Linked DNA regions of Homo sapiens: region 2 is linked to region 1. The links come from fine-mapping of genetic effects on gene expression. Tissue or cell type: adrenal gland. Region 1 holds a variant in brackets; the other region holds the start of a gene. All regions are shown on one strand. Distances are between the middles of the regions.

Region 1 (7,857 bases):
TATAGATTAGACCATTTGATGTCCCACAGCTCTTTGATGTTCTGTTAAATTGTCTTTCAGTCTTTTCACCCTACGTGTTTTATTTTAGATTATTTTTTGTTTCTCTGGCTTCAAGTTTCCTAATTTTTTTCTTCTATAATGTCTAATCTGCTACTAATCCCTTCCTTGGTATTTTTCATTACAGACATTGGTTTTTGTCATCTCTAGAAGTACGGTTGGGTCATTTTCCTTGTCTCTCCTTCATATGCTCATGCTTTCCTCTATTTCTTGATCATATAAGATATTTATAATAATTGTTTTTATACCCTTGTCTACTAATTCTACCCTCTTTGACATTTCTTGGTCTGTTTCAATTGACTGATCTTTTTTCCTCCACATTTTGCATAGTGTGTCTCATAATTTTTGATCAAATGCCAGATATTGTGAATTTCACTCTGCTGGGTGCTGGATATTCTTATATTCCTTCAAATATTACTGAGCTTTGTTATGAGATGCAGCTAAGTTATGTAAAAACAGTTGGATCCTTTTGAGACTTCTTTTTGACTTTGTTAACTGGGACAAGCAGCTATTACAATAGGGCTAACTTTACCATACTATTGAGGCAATTAGTCTAGGGCTTGTTTTTCCCTTCAGAGGACTCTACCCAATGCCCCCTGAGTTATGATGTTTTTCACTCTGCCTGGTATAACCATGGACTATTCCTAGCCTTCTGTGAGCTCTGCTGACTACATTCCATTGAGACAGTTATTTCTCTAGCTTTGAGTAGTTACTTGCATGCTGTGATCAGTATTTAGCTGATGACAAGGTGAATCTTTTACAGAATCTAGAACTTTCTCTTTATGCAACTCTTTCCCCTGTGCCACTGTGTGTGGGAACTCTAGGTGCCTTAGACTTCCCAATCTCCCAACTCTATTCAATTCAGAGAGACCTCCAGGTCTTGCCTGAGTTCCTGCATACTGCACTGTGGCCTGAAAACTCTCTCAAGAAAGTAAGTTGCTCCATGATGGAACTGAGGATCTGAGGAAGGGAGGGAAAAAAAATAAAAAGAAAGTAAGCTGGGGTAATCATAGGGCTCACTTTATTTGCTTTGCCTTTCTTAGGGATCACTGTCCTGCCCCACTTGATGTCATGTCTGAACCCCATTGTTTCATATATTTTGTCTAGTTTTTCTGTTTGTTTGTTGTTTCATACAAGAAGGTAAATCTGGTTCCTGATACTATCTTTCCAGAAACAGTATCAGAAACTAATAGAAGTCCACCAAAAGTGCAATTCATCTCAGTGGAGGAAAAGATAAATTATTCAATAAATGGTGTCAAGATACATATTAATAGGTTCTAATTTGCAATTACAGGATAAAATCTGAGACAGTTTTAACAGAAAAGAAGTATATTAAACATTATTAATAGATTACAAATTTTCCAGATGGGCCAGAGAGTTAGGCTTTGAGGTGAAGCACTTGGAAACTGAATTAGCCTGTCAAACTATTCAAAGGAATGACTGCAGCATTCTGGTGCTGGCAACATACTTCACACCATAGTTGTGCTGTTGCTGTTGCTGTTGCTGTTGCTAACTTCTCCATGTTTTTCTGCTGTGCTTCATCACCCTCTTCGGGAACTATGTTTTGTAGTACCTGCCTTCTCATGATGTTTTTTCCAAATCAAGATTTCGTGAATGCATACCTAGTTGATGAAACCTAGGTCATGCACCTTCTTCAGAGCCACAGGAGAAGCTGGGGAATTGACTTTGTATCTGCCTTACTTTGATGAGACAGAATACAATTTTAGAACATCCACAAGTATAGAAATATGATTCAAATGACACTGGGTGGCTACAAATAGGACAAATAGTCCCACAACACAAACTGAGTAGTCATGTGAAAACAGGTGAAGTTGAATCCCTACCTCACACCTTATACCAGAAGGTCAGAGAAACCAGGAAAAAAAGAAACCATAAAGGTACTCAAAGAAAATTAAGAATTTTTAAATAACTCATTTTATTTTTCATATTGCTGCCTTCTAATCAAGTATCTAAGGGCTTACAGATCTAAAATAAGAGTAAAACAGGCAGTAAAGCAATGATGACCTGTGAAATAAACATAAATCCAACATAATGGCTCTGCCTTAGGTGTAGACTGTAATAGTAGAATCTGAGAGGTGTTTCAAAGACTCTACAAAGCTTTCTCACCTGTATCTCAACATACCCACAATCAGCTGTGCTTCTGGGTCTTGCCCCCTCAGATCTCTACTTTTGTCATCAGGTTTATCTCCCACAGAGTCCTTTTAGCCTTTAAGATCTTTCCTGGGGGTGAGGGGTCTTTCTTTTGGTGATATTCATGGTGTTGCTGTAGGCTTTTAATTGCACTAGTAGAATAATAGACAAAAGGAGAGGCAATTACACAATGGAAAGAACAAGGCTTGACTCACAAGCCCTGATTTGTGCCCTAGCTTTGTCACTTACTGGATGATTGGGCACATTATCTAATTTGATTGGGGCTTGGTTTTCTCAAAGATAAAATTATTCCACTAACACCTACCACATAGGGTTAGATAAAATAACATACATTAGATAGATAGGCAGATATGGAAATATTTTAATGAAAGAAAAGAGGTTGTTTAGTTATGCATATTTTGCCTACATATTCCATCACAGTATTTATAAAATTGATTTAAAAATAGCAAAGTATTACAGCATGTTCCTTTGAAGAATAAGAAAAATTATCCAAATAGATCAAGAAAGAGATGGTTCACTTTGTGAAATATGAAACATATATGTAAGGCACAAAGAGTCATAACTCTTAAACTATCCAGGAGCTCACAGTTGGACTGGTAAGATCAAGGGATTAATAAAAGTGAGATGGTGTTAAGAAAATTCATGGTGAAAACCATCAATGAATTTTTTTTAAGTCTGATAGATTATTTTGGTCTAGAGTTTTTCTGAACTCTATCTTATTTGCCTAAAGTCAGAGAGGCATTCCTCTCATTTCTTATCACAAAGCCACAATAAATTAAATGATTTTATCCATTCTTTGAGTTTCCTCCTTCTAGTTCCTGGTTTAACAAGAGCTGTAGAAAACCTAACCTTGGAAAACTGGGGAAGTGTCATGAAAAATGAAATAATTCAGAGATTATCTTAAATATTTCTCCAACAGAAAAATTATTATGACTATTTTCTCACCTCCATAAAAACTTAGGCATATTATTGGCTTAATTATTGAAACTGAAAGCTTGTTTTGGCTGTTACAACCATTGATAAGGAAGATTTGAGGACATAGTCATCATGCATGATGTACTGTAGGGAAGTGGAATCCCCTCACTGCTCCCCTGACCTCCTATGTGTCATCCTCAAAACTACCAGAATGGTCCACCTGAAGTGTAATCTGACCATAGCAAAAACCCTTCAGTGGCTGGAAAGAACAATCTAAAGACCCTTGATGGCTTTTGAGCTCCTCTGTCCCTCTCCC[C/G]ACTTGTTCCTCCTCTGCTCATATTAACCTTGATTAATGTGAACATAGCTGTACTTCCGCATCCCTATGCTGCTGTTTCTTGATTTCGTGATTTTTCTCATGCTTTACTGAGAACCCAGAATACCCATCCCTTCTCCAAAGCCTAATTCCTGCTTGCCTTTGAGACATAGCTCCAATGCCATCTCTCACTCCCTGAGACTGGGCTGAGCACCAAGCCTTCATTATCGTTCTTGCAGGACTCACAGAATAGGGTGAGTAAGTGAGGTGGGGTGTGGGAGTAGTCGACAAAGTGGGTGGTGGATGCTATGATAGGGAAGTACAGCGTTCTGTCAAAGCTCCAGCCTTCTGGAAGAAGTGACACCAAATCTGTAAACCAGGCAAAGAGGAGATGTAGAGAGTATTTAATACCATGGGAAGAGCATGTAGGCCTACAGAAAAGAGGCTAAATAGTTAGATGGTGCCCAGATGAAAAGGGTTTTTTAAGCCATGTTAAGGAATATGAACCATATGCTTAAGGTAAGGGGCAACCACTGAAGGAGCTTAAGCATCTCTGTGCAGATCTGCATTCTGAAATATCCCTTTGATTAACTACATCATAAATTATAAATTGGAAGAGGTGAGAGCAGCAGGAAGATGAGTTGGGAGACTTTTCTTAATCTAGAGGGGAGATGATAGTGGCTTAATCCAGACTAGTGGCAGTCAGGGTGGAAGGACATAGAAGGGACTGGAAAACAATGAGGAACAATCAGCAGGACTTGGTGATGCTTAGAGAGGAGCTGAAAGTATAGGAGGAATCCAGGATGATTCCCAGCTTTCTGGCTTGAGCCATGGAGTAGATGATGACACTATCCGTGAGATAGGAGACTGGTAGGAAAGTTGTTTTAGTTCCGATGCGAGTCCAGCCCAAGGATACTTACAGCTTAATTTTGTATTTATCAGATATAGTGGAGAAATAGGTATAGACTTACCGAACACCTACTATGTGCTTGGCCTTGTTTCTAGGCACTAGGAATGCCATAATTAATAAAACAGAAAAAAATCTTGCCCTCCTGGAACTTAGATGCTAGTAGGGAGATGGCAAAAAGTAAATTAGTCTATTGCACAGAATGTCAGAAGGTAAAAAGTGCTATGAAGAAAAATAAAGCTAAGAACAGGCTCCTAAGTGAGAAGGTGGACCTCTGGGCAGAGACCTGAGGATGTGAGAGAACAAGCCATGTGGGTAACTGTGGAAAGAGCATTCCTGGCAGAGGGGCCAGCCCATGCTGTAAGGCAGGAGTGTGCCTGGCATGCCCCATGGAGACCAGAGTGGCTGCAGGAGGGTGAGTGAAGGGGAATGAGGTCAACAGGCCACAGAAGGCCAGTGTCAGTCCTTATAGACAGTGCAAGACTCTGGTTTCTAGTCTCAGCAAAATGGGAAGCCACTGGAAGGCTTTCAGATAATGATCTGACGTGTTTGAACACAATCCTCTTTGGGACAACAGCAGAAGTTGGGGGTCCAGTTAGGAGGCTATTGGTCCAGGTGAGAGATATTGGTAGCACTGGAGGTGGTGAGAGATGATCAGATTATAGATGTATTTTAAAGGCTTTGCCAATGGATTGGCTGTGAGCTGTGAAAAATAGGAGATTCAGGATGCAACCCATGCCAACGTATCACCCCATTTTCACACAGTGGCCTTACTCACAGATGCTCTTTGTGGGACATTCCCAAAGTGGCTGTGCTTACTTCTGTGGGCCACCACAGTCTATTTCCATGGGTTTTTGAGCTTGACGGTGCCAATTATGGTATCTTTAACTCACCAAAAAAATAATTTATCCAAGTTCTGTATCCTCTTATTATGACCTTCAAGAAGCATGTGCTTTCAGTTCTTGTGTGCTGCATAATATTTTGAAATACTAAATCCTTTCATTCTCCCTGAATTTTCTAGTAAACAAATTTGTACCTGGTTGGTTTTAAAACTGATTTTCTTAGATTCCAAGTAAAGCTGAATATTTCTTACCTTTTTTAAAAAATTTATTTATATCCTTGTCCATTGATTAGTTAGGGAGATAGTGCCGGTCTTACTGATTTATATGCCTTCTTTATAAGGAAAAGTAGATTTTTTTAAGATTAATAACTACTGGTAGCGTGGAACCTATTTAAAACATCTCATTGGAAGCCCCAGATAAATGCATACTCAGAAAGATGGCTTGTTTTGTTTGGCTTATTTGTTTTTATTGGAAGGGGGAGTGCATTGCTATCAAATAAGCTACCTCAAAGGAATAATTGCAGGGATAAACAAAATATATTTCATAATATGGTAAAATACCCTACTGAAAACAGAGACAGAAACCTACAAAGTGAATCTGGTGGATAAGCAGGAGTCCTAGATCAGGTTTCAAAATCAGATTCAAGGTGAGTTGCGGTGGGAATTGCAAATCTATATGAGACCAGGATTCAGTGAAGCGTTTTTTGTTTGCTTTTGAGACGGAGTCTTGCTCTGTTGCCCAGGCTGGAGTATGCAGTGATCTCGGCTCACTTCAACCTCTGCCTCCCGGGTTCAAGCAATCCTCCCACTCAGCCTCCCGAGTACCAAGGATTACAGGCATATACCACCACGCCTGTCTAATTTTTTTTTTTTTTTTGGTATTTTTAGTAGAGATGGGGTTTCACCATGTTGGCCAGGCTGGTCTCGAACCCCTGACCTCAAGTGATCCGCCCACCTTGGCCTCCCAAAATGGTGGGATTACAGGGGTGAGCCACTGTGCCCGGCCTGGATTCAATGAAGTTATAATCAACAATACTAAGGCTAATTTCAAAGGTAAGGTAACTATGTAATGTTTATTAATTCATTTAAGTTATTAACTGTACAGTAGGACTGTTTTAATGAAAAGTTGATTTGCTGGCTATTTTGTACCTGCCCCTGCAGATTGGCCCTTCTCCTTTCTCTGTGCCCCAAGAGGCTGATCCTCCTGTCGGGCAGGAGATTGGAGGGAAGGAGAGAGAGGTGAATGTTTATTCCCAAGGCTCTTTCTTTCCCTGCTGGGTCTTGGGTTAACTTTATTCCTCTAGTGGAGGCCACAGCCCCTGCTGGGTGGCCCTCTGAACAACCACAGCTGCTCCTTCCAAGCTCCCATAACCCCTCCTTCCTTTCAGACAAGGGGTGGTAATGGTTCTACCTGGTTGCTAGCCCTGGAGTATTACACCATCCCTGTGGTTTCCCTTCCCCTGTGTATAGTCCCTTCATTCCACTCTCCTCAGTCATCTCTTACCCATGCTACTACTGCCAGGATCCTGACTGATAAAGTCATGTTCCTTATGAAAAAGGAAGACGGAAAGAGGGAGGAAGGAAGGAAGGAAGGAAGGAAGGAAGGAAGGAAGGGAGGAAGGAAGGAAGGAAGGAAGGGACACCTGTTTAATATGGCACTACTACCAGCTGGTGAATCATAAGTATCCAAAGAAGAAATAATCACTTAACAACCAAACTTATAAACCAATTAATGACATACCACATGTGACATACCACATTTTTTCCTTGCACATCTCTCCCTACTTGCATCGTGTCCTGGTACCTTTCTTTACCACGTGTGTTGGCAGAGACAGCTAGTTGTCTCTGCCTAGCCATTCTCCCCTTTCTTTAGTCATGAATCCTCAGTTTTTATCTGGGCCCATAGTTGTCCAGCTCCACATTACATTTCCAAGCCTTCCTTATAAATAGATGTGCTCATGGGACTGTTGGCTAATAAGATAAGAACAGAAACAGTAAATATACCTCCAGGTCTTCTCTTTAAAGGGAAAACATGATTTCTACTTCACTTTCTCTTCTCCCTCTCCAGTTAGCTGGAGTGATACAGGTTGGAGTGTCTCAGTTTATATGGGTTCCTGATGCAGGAGTTTCTGTGAAAAAACTGGTAAAGTTTCAGGCAAACTGATGGGTTGGTCACCTTAAGTGTAGTAGGGACTGGAGGAGTCATTTTGGGAGCTGCATGCTGAAGACAGAAGGAAGTGGCCCTCACCTCATGACTGTTGCCTAATTGAAAGATAAACTAACATTTTGTCCAGGCCATTGTTACTTTGGTTTCTTTTATAGCAATGGAATCTGCATCCTAATGCATGTTTTGTTTTGTTTTTTTCTCTTTCTTTTCCTTTCTCATGGTTGCTTGAGAGCTCTTTCTTACTAATAGAATATAATAATAATTTTTAAAAATTGTTTTATTTATGTAGTATTTTTTAAAGATGGTCTATTAAAAACATATGTTTACCATATGGCCCAGCAATTCCACTTCTAGTTACATTCTCAAAAGAAATGAAAACCGGTACTTGAATGAAAAATTATACACAAATATTTATAAGCAGCACTATTCACAATAGCCAAAAGGTAGAAACAACCCAAATGTTCATCAACTAGTGAACGAATAAA
Region 2 (5,000 bases), 140 kb before region 1:
ATACTGTTGACTAATTGGCGATCCAGTATCCTCCTACTTGAAAAAAATGCTTATAGTTTATTCTCAAAAAAAGGTGAAAGAGACTTAAAAAAATTCCACATTTTCAAGGAACTCCTTCACCTTTAAAATGGAAGGAAGAAAGGAAATAAGGAAGGGAAGGAGGGAGATAAATGGAAAATGAACAAGGGTTATGAAGAAGCAAGTCACAGAAGAAATTCAAATGACCAACAAATATATGAAAAGATGCTTATCCAGACTAATAGTCCGGGAAATTAAAGTTAAAAACAATATTTTATGCCCTTAGATTGGCAAAAATTTTAAATATTGCTAAAATTCACTTTTAGCATGGATTTAGGGAATAAGAGTGCTGGTATACACTATTGGTAGGAGTTCACAATAGTGCAATGTATATGGAAGATACTGGTATTAAGTTTAAAATTTTTAACTGTGCCTATATTTGCAGGATTATTTACTAGGGAAAAACTAGAAACAATCTTATATAATAGGGAAATGGTTAAATAAATTATGGTACATTCTTGCTATGGACTGCCATAGGTATTGACACTGATGAAAGTCTACATAAAATGTGTTTAAAAGGAAATTGTAGGACAACGTATATAACATAATATCAATTAAATAAAAATAGGGCTGGGAGAGGTGGCTCAATGTATATAATATAATCTCAACTAAGTAAAAATAGGCCCGGGCAAGGTGGCTAACACCTGTAATCCCAACACTTTGAGAGGCTGAGGTGGGAGGATCGCTTGAGCCCAGGAGTTTGAGACCCGCCTGGGCAACATGGCTAACCCTTGTCTCTACAGAAAAATTAAAAACACAGTGGGCGTGGTGGCTGACACCCAGCTACTCAGGAGGCTAAGGTGGGAGGATCACTTGAATCTGGGAGGTAGAGGCTGCAGTGAGGCAAGATCCTGCCACTGCACTCCAGCCTGGGTGACAAAGTGATACCCGGTCTCAAAAACAAATACATAAATAAAAATAAAAGTATATTTTCCAAAGGAAAAGGTTTCAGAAGATTCACACTATATTTAATAGTTGGTGTGAATCCTTTGAGACCTTTTCCCCTGAGGAAGTGAGAATGAGGGTTTAACTTTTCACAATGAACAGGCAGTGCTTTTTTAAAAACAACTTTATTGAAGTATGATTGGACATAAAATAAATCGCACATACTTAGTGTCCAACCTGGTAAGTTTTGATATTGTATACATCTGTGAAACCATCATCACAATCAAGATATTATCCATCATCCCCCTAAACTTCGTGTCTCTTTGTAATCCCTCTTTTCTGCCTCTTTCTGACCCCACTCCTATCCGCTAGCAACCGCCCATGTACTCTCTGTCACTATGTATTAGTTTGCATTTTCCAGAATGTTATGTAAATGGAATCATACGGTTCTGGCTTCTTTCACTTGGCAGAATTATTTTGAGATTCATCCATGCTGTTGCATTTATCAATAGTTTACTTTTTTATTGCTCAGTACTATTCCTTCGTATGGATCAATCACGACTGGTTTATCCATTCACTTGTTGATAGACATTTGGATTGTTTCCAGTTTATGGCTATTACAAATAGAGCTGCTATGAACATTTGTGTACAAGTCTTTGTAAGAACATATGCTTTTTTCCCTCTTGGGTAAATAGCTAGGAATGGAAGGCTGGCTTTGTTTAGCATTTTAAGAAATTGTCAAAATGTTTTCAAAGCTGCCGAACCATTTTATGATTCCACCAGAGACAGGAGTATGGGGCTGAGGTAACAAATGGTCCCCTTCACCATCCTCGGATGAGTTAATGACAGTAACCATCAGCTCACCGTATAGGCCTAATCAGGAACTGTCCGTGCTAAAATGTGTCTAGTTCTCTTTAGTCAGATTCCTTTGAGAGTGTGATTAAGCTCACGGTCAGTGTGGCGTGTAGGACGGGACACACATGGACAAATGCTAGGCAGGAATCGCCCACGCTGGAAAGGGCGATGGCCTGAAAAAAAACGACCGCAGTTGGGATGGAAAGGGGAGGGTTGAAGTTCAGACATATTGAAGTTAGAATGGTTGGGACTTGGTAAGAGGGGAGAGAGGACGATGCCTAGGGTTTAGTGACCAGGTGATGGTGGTGCAAGCAGAGGGGAGGAGTGGGTTGGCGGGAGGAAAAAGAGGTTATTTTTGGTTTGTCACCTGTGAGTTGCCTACTGGACACAAAGATGAAGCTGTCGGGAAAGTGATGCTAAGTGTACACGTCTGCGTGGAGATCCAGACTTCTGGTGCAACATCTAGGTTTAGGTGAAGTATTAGAAGCAGTTGTAGCCAACAAATTCGTATCTTTCAGAGCAATCATTTCTACACCTTACGAAAAGCACCGAATCCGTGGTCTCCCCCACACAGACATGACCAGAACATGTGCGATGACGTCAGCCTTTTTGACTAGTCTCCCACTCACTCGATTCTGCGCAGGCGTATGGCGCATGCGCAACATCCCCTAGTGCCGCCGCTCCCTACTCTGGGGGTTGGGACTACCTCCTTTTCCGCGGGCCCCGCCCAGGCGGCTGCCCGTGACCTGCCTGGGCGCGGGGAACTGAAAGCCGGAAGGGGCAAGACGGGTTCAGTTCGTCATGGGGCTGTTTGGAAAGACCCAGGAGAAGCCGCCCAAAGAACTGGTAAGGGCTACGGCGGCGGCAGATAAGCGGGTGGATCTGTGTGGGGCGTAGTGAAGTTGGTAAATGACAGGACACTCTTCTCCCCACCGCCTGCCCGATACCGCCCGGCCCCCATTTCCGGGGACTCCCACTCGACAGGGGGGCCGGAGGAAGAGTCTTTAGGAGTCGGCTGTGGGACGCGAGAGCTCCTGGTGCCATGGCTCTCGAACAGGTAGCCGAGGGTGGATGAAGAGTTTCTCCACCTCGCCACTGAGCGCGTAGGCAGCGACACCGTCCTGGCCTCGGAAACCTCTTCCCCCTGCGCGCGTTGGTACGACCCGCCCGGAACCTTTTCCCAGCGTAGGCCCCACCCCTCCAGCCCGGCTGCGGACCACCCGGAGAACCTTCTCCTGCCCGAAGCGTTGTTTGGAGCGGGCCGGGTCGCGTCTGCCGGAGGAGCCGTCTGTTCTCCGTCCTCCCTGTTGTGTTGAAAAAGAGGCTCAGTTTCCTCTTTCCCCAGCCCTTGTGTTGACCCTAGGCACATACCGTAGCGGGGCAGGGACTCGACCCAGAAGAATGTTACAGAAGATAGCTCTGGACCCGGCTTCGAACTCTCGTTACCTATTAATTGAGATAATATTGGGAGGCAAACAGTTGAAAATGCCCTGCAGTCAGTCAACCTAAGTTTGAATCCTGCCTTCCCACATCTCAGCTCTGTGATCTCTGGAAAGTTCACTTCTCAGTGCCTTCTCGACTGTGAAGCCAGAATAATAGTAGTGTCACCTCAGAGTAATTGAAGATTCAGGGATGTAAAGTTTTCATATTGGTAGTTAGGGCTAATTCTTTAAATACGGCACAGCTTTGCTACTCAAATGCCAACCAGCAGCATCAACATCACCTGGGAGCTTGTTAAATCTCGGACACCACTCCAGACCCACTGAGTCAGATTTTGAATTCTGACAAGCTCCCTAATGATTAGTGTGCACATCAGTGCTTTGAGAAGCACTGCTCTGCAACACCTAGGCTTGTCCATAATGGAAAAAAAAAATCCTGAAATCCTTTAATAAATGATCTTACCTGTTCAGCTCTAGCAGGCACATTTTAAAAACTAATCTTATGCATCTTGCAATTCCTGGCACATAATGTGCGTTAATGTAAATTTGTTGTTGTTGTTGTTAAAGGCCCTAGAACAGTAGACACTCATTATTTTCGTCAGGAAACTTACTCAGTTTTGCTCCTTGGTAAAATAAAAATTGTGGCGCTTAAATGAAATAACGGTATAACATCACTTTGGAAACTATAGAACATTATATAGATGCACATTTTGTGACATCTGTATATTCTAAGATTCTTGTTATTGTAGAAGTGTGGTAGGGAGAGATTATTTGTTGTCTTCAGTGTTTGGCCTTGGCATTGCCATTCGTAAATTGAGATAAGATTATGGAGAAGCAAAAAAGATGCTGGGGAAATGGTTGCTTTATTGTTTAAACTAGTCTCTAGTATATGTACTACTATACTACTCTAGTATATTGTACACTTAGATTGTTTTTAAATGATAAATTGCTAAGAACACGATATTGGTACACTCTTCAGTAGGGTAATCTACCTGAGAAAGCTGATTGACACTGGAAAATGGCAGGGTTGATGCATGAGATTGGTTTTTAAAACTATGCTTGCCAGAGCCGAACAGGTAAGATCATTTATTGAATAAAAAATTTTAGTTGTTTTTCCCCCCATTATGGACAAGTCTGGGTATTGTAGAGCAGTGCTTCTCAAGCATTAGTGTGCACACTAATCATTAGGGATCTTGTCAGAATTCAAAATCTGATTCAGTAGGTCTTGGATAGGGTCTGAGATTTCTAATAAGCTCCCAGGTGATGTTGATGCTGCTGGTCTACACTTGAGTAGCAAGATTGTAGAGTGAATTAAGATTAGCCCTAACTACCACCACCTTTAGCTAACATATTGAACCAGGCATTGTGTTAAGCACTCTGCAATGTTATGAGGTAGGAACTGTTATTGTCTCCACTTTACAGGTGGCAACTGAGGCATACAGTATTTAGGTAATTTGCCCAAGGTCATACAGTTTGTGAATTACAGCACCAGAGGTTATGTATTCTAAGGCCTATACTTAGAATTATCATGCCATTTATACTACCTCCCAAAGAGGGATTATAAAGGTGAAATAAGAAGCCAAAGAACTTAACTTCTAGCAAGTAAGATAAACATTTTAAGAGCTGGTTTGGATAGGGCACCTGATATGGTTTGGATCTGTGTCCCCGCCAAATCTCATGTCAAATTGTCATCCCCAGTGTTGGAGGTGGGACCTAGTATGAGGTGATTGGATCATGGGAGCA

Alleles and levels. Positions count from the first base shown, and alleles are read on the strand shown. Sizes are in standard deviations (SD) of each study's normalised expression.
For the expression in adrenal gland of the gene that starts at base 2,525 in region 2, G is the high allele of the variant in region 1 and C is the other (small effect, 0.35 SD a copy in GTEx).

What was found. PIP is the estimated chance that this variant, and not a neighbour inherited with it, causes the effect.
Region 2: it holds the start of CHMP3, and the variant in region 1 is fine-mapped to the expression of CHMP3 in adrenal gland (GTEx, PIP 0.99).

Annotation. Positions count from the first base shown.
Region 1 is chr2:86,416,973-86,424,829 of GRCh38, reverse strand. No RefSeq gene overlaps it. Among named protein-coding and RNA genes, the nearest start is that of KDM3A, 20 kb to the left of the region's middle. The variant C/G (reference allele first, on the strand shown) is at 3,461.
Region 2 is chr2:86,560,968-86,565,967 of GRCh38, reverse strand. It overlaps CHMP3 (charged multivesicular body protein 3), which reads left to right and starts at 2,525. Exons shown (of 6, transcript NM_016079.4): 1 at 2,525-2,664. The coding sequence starts at 2,620. The region is part of intron 3 of RNF103-CHMP3 (RNF103-CHMP3 readthrough); the gene reads left to right. It overlaps CHMP3-AS1 (CHMP3 and RNF103 antisense RNA 1), which reads right to left and starts at 3,898. Exons shown (of 6, transcript NR_183901.1): 1 at 3,721-3,898; 2 at 3,048-3,122; 3 at 2,569-2,700; 4 at 2,186-2,280; 5 at 1,828-1,991. RefSeq lists enhancers at 2,150-2,209, 2,368-2,662, 2,820-2,919, 2,930-3,099.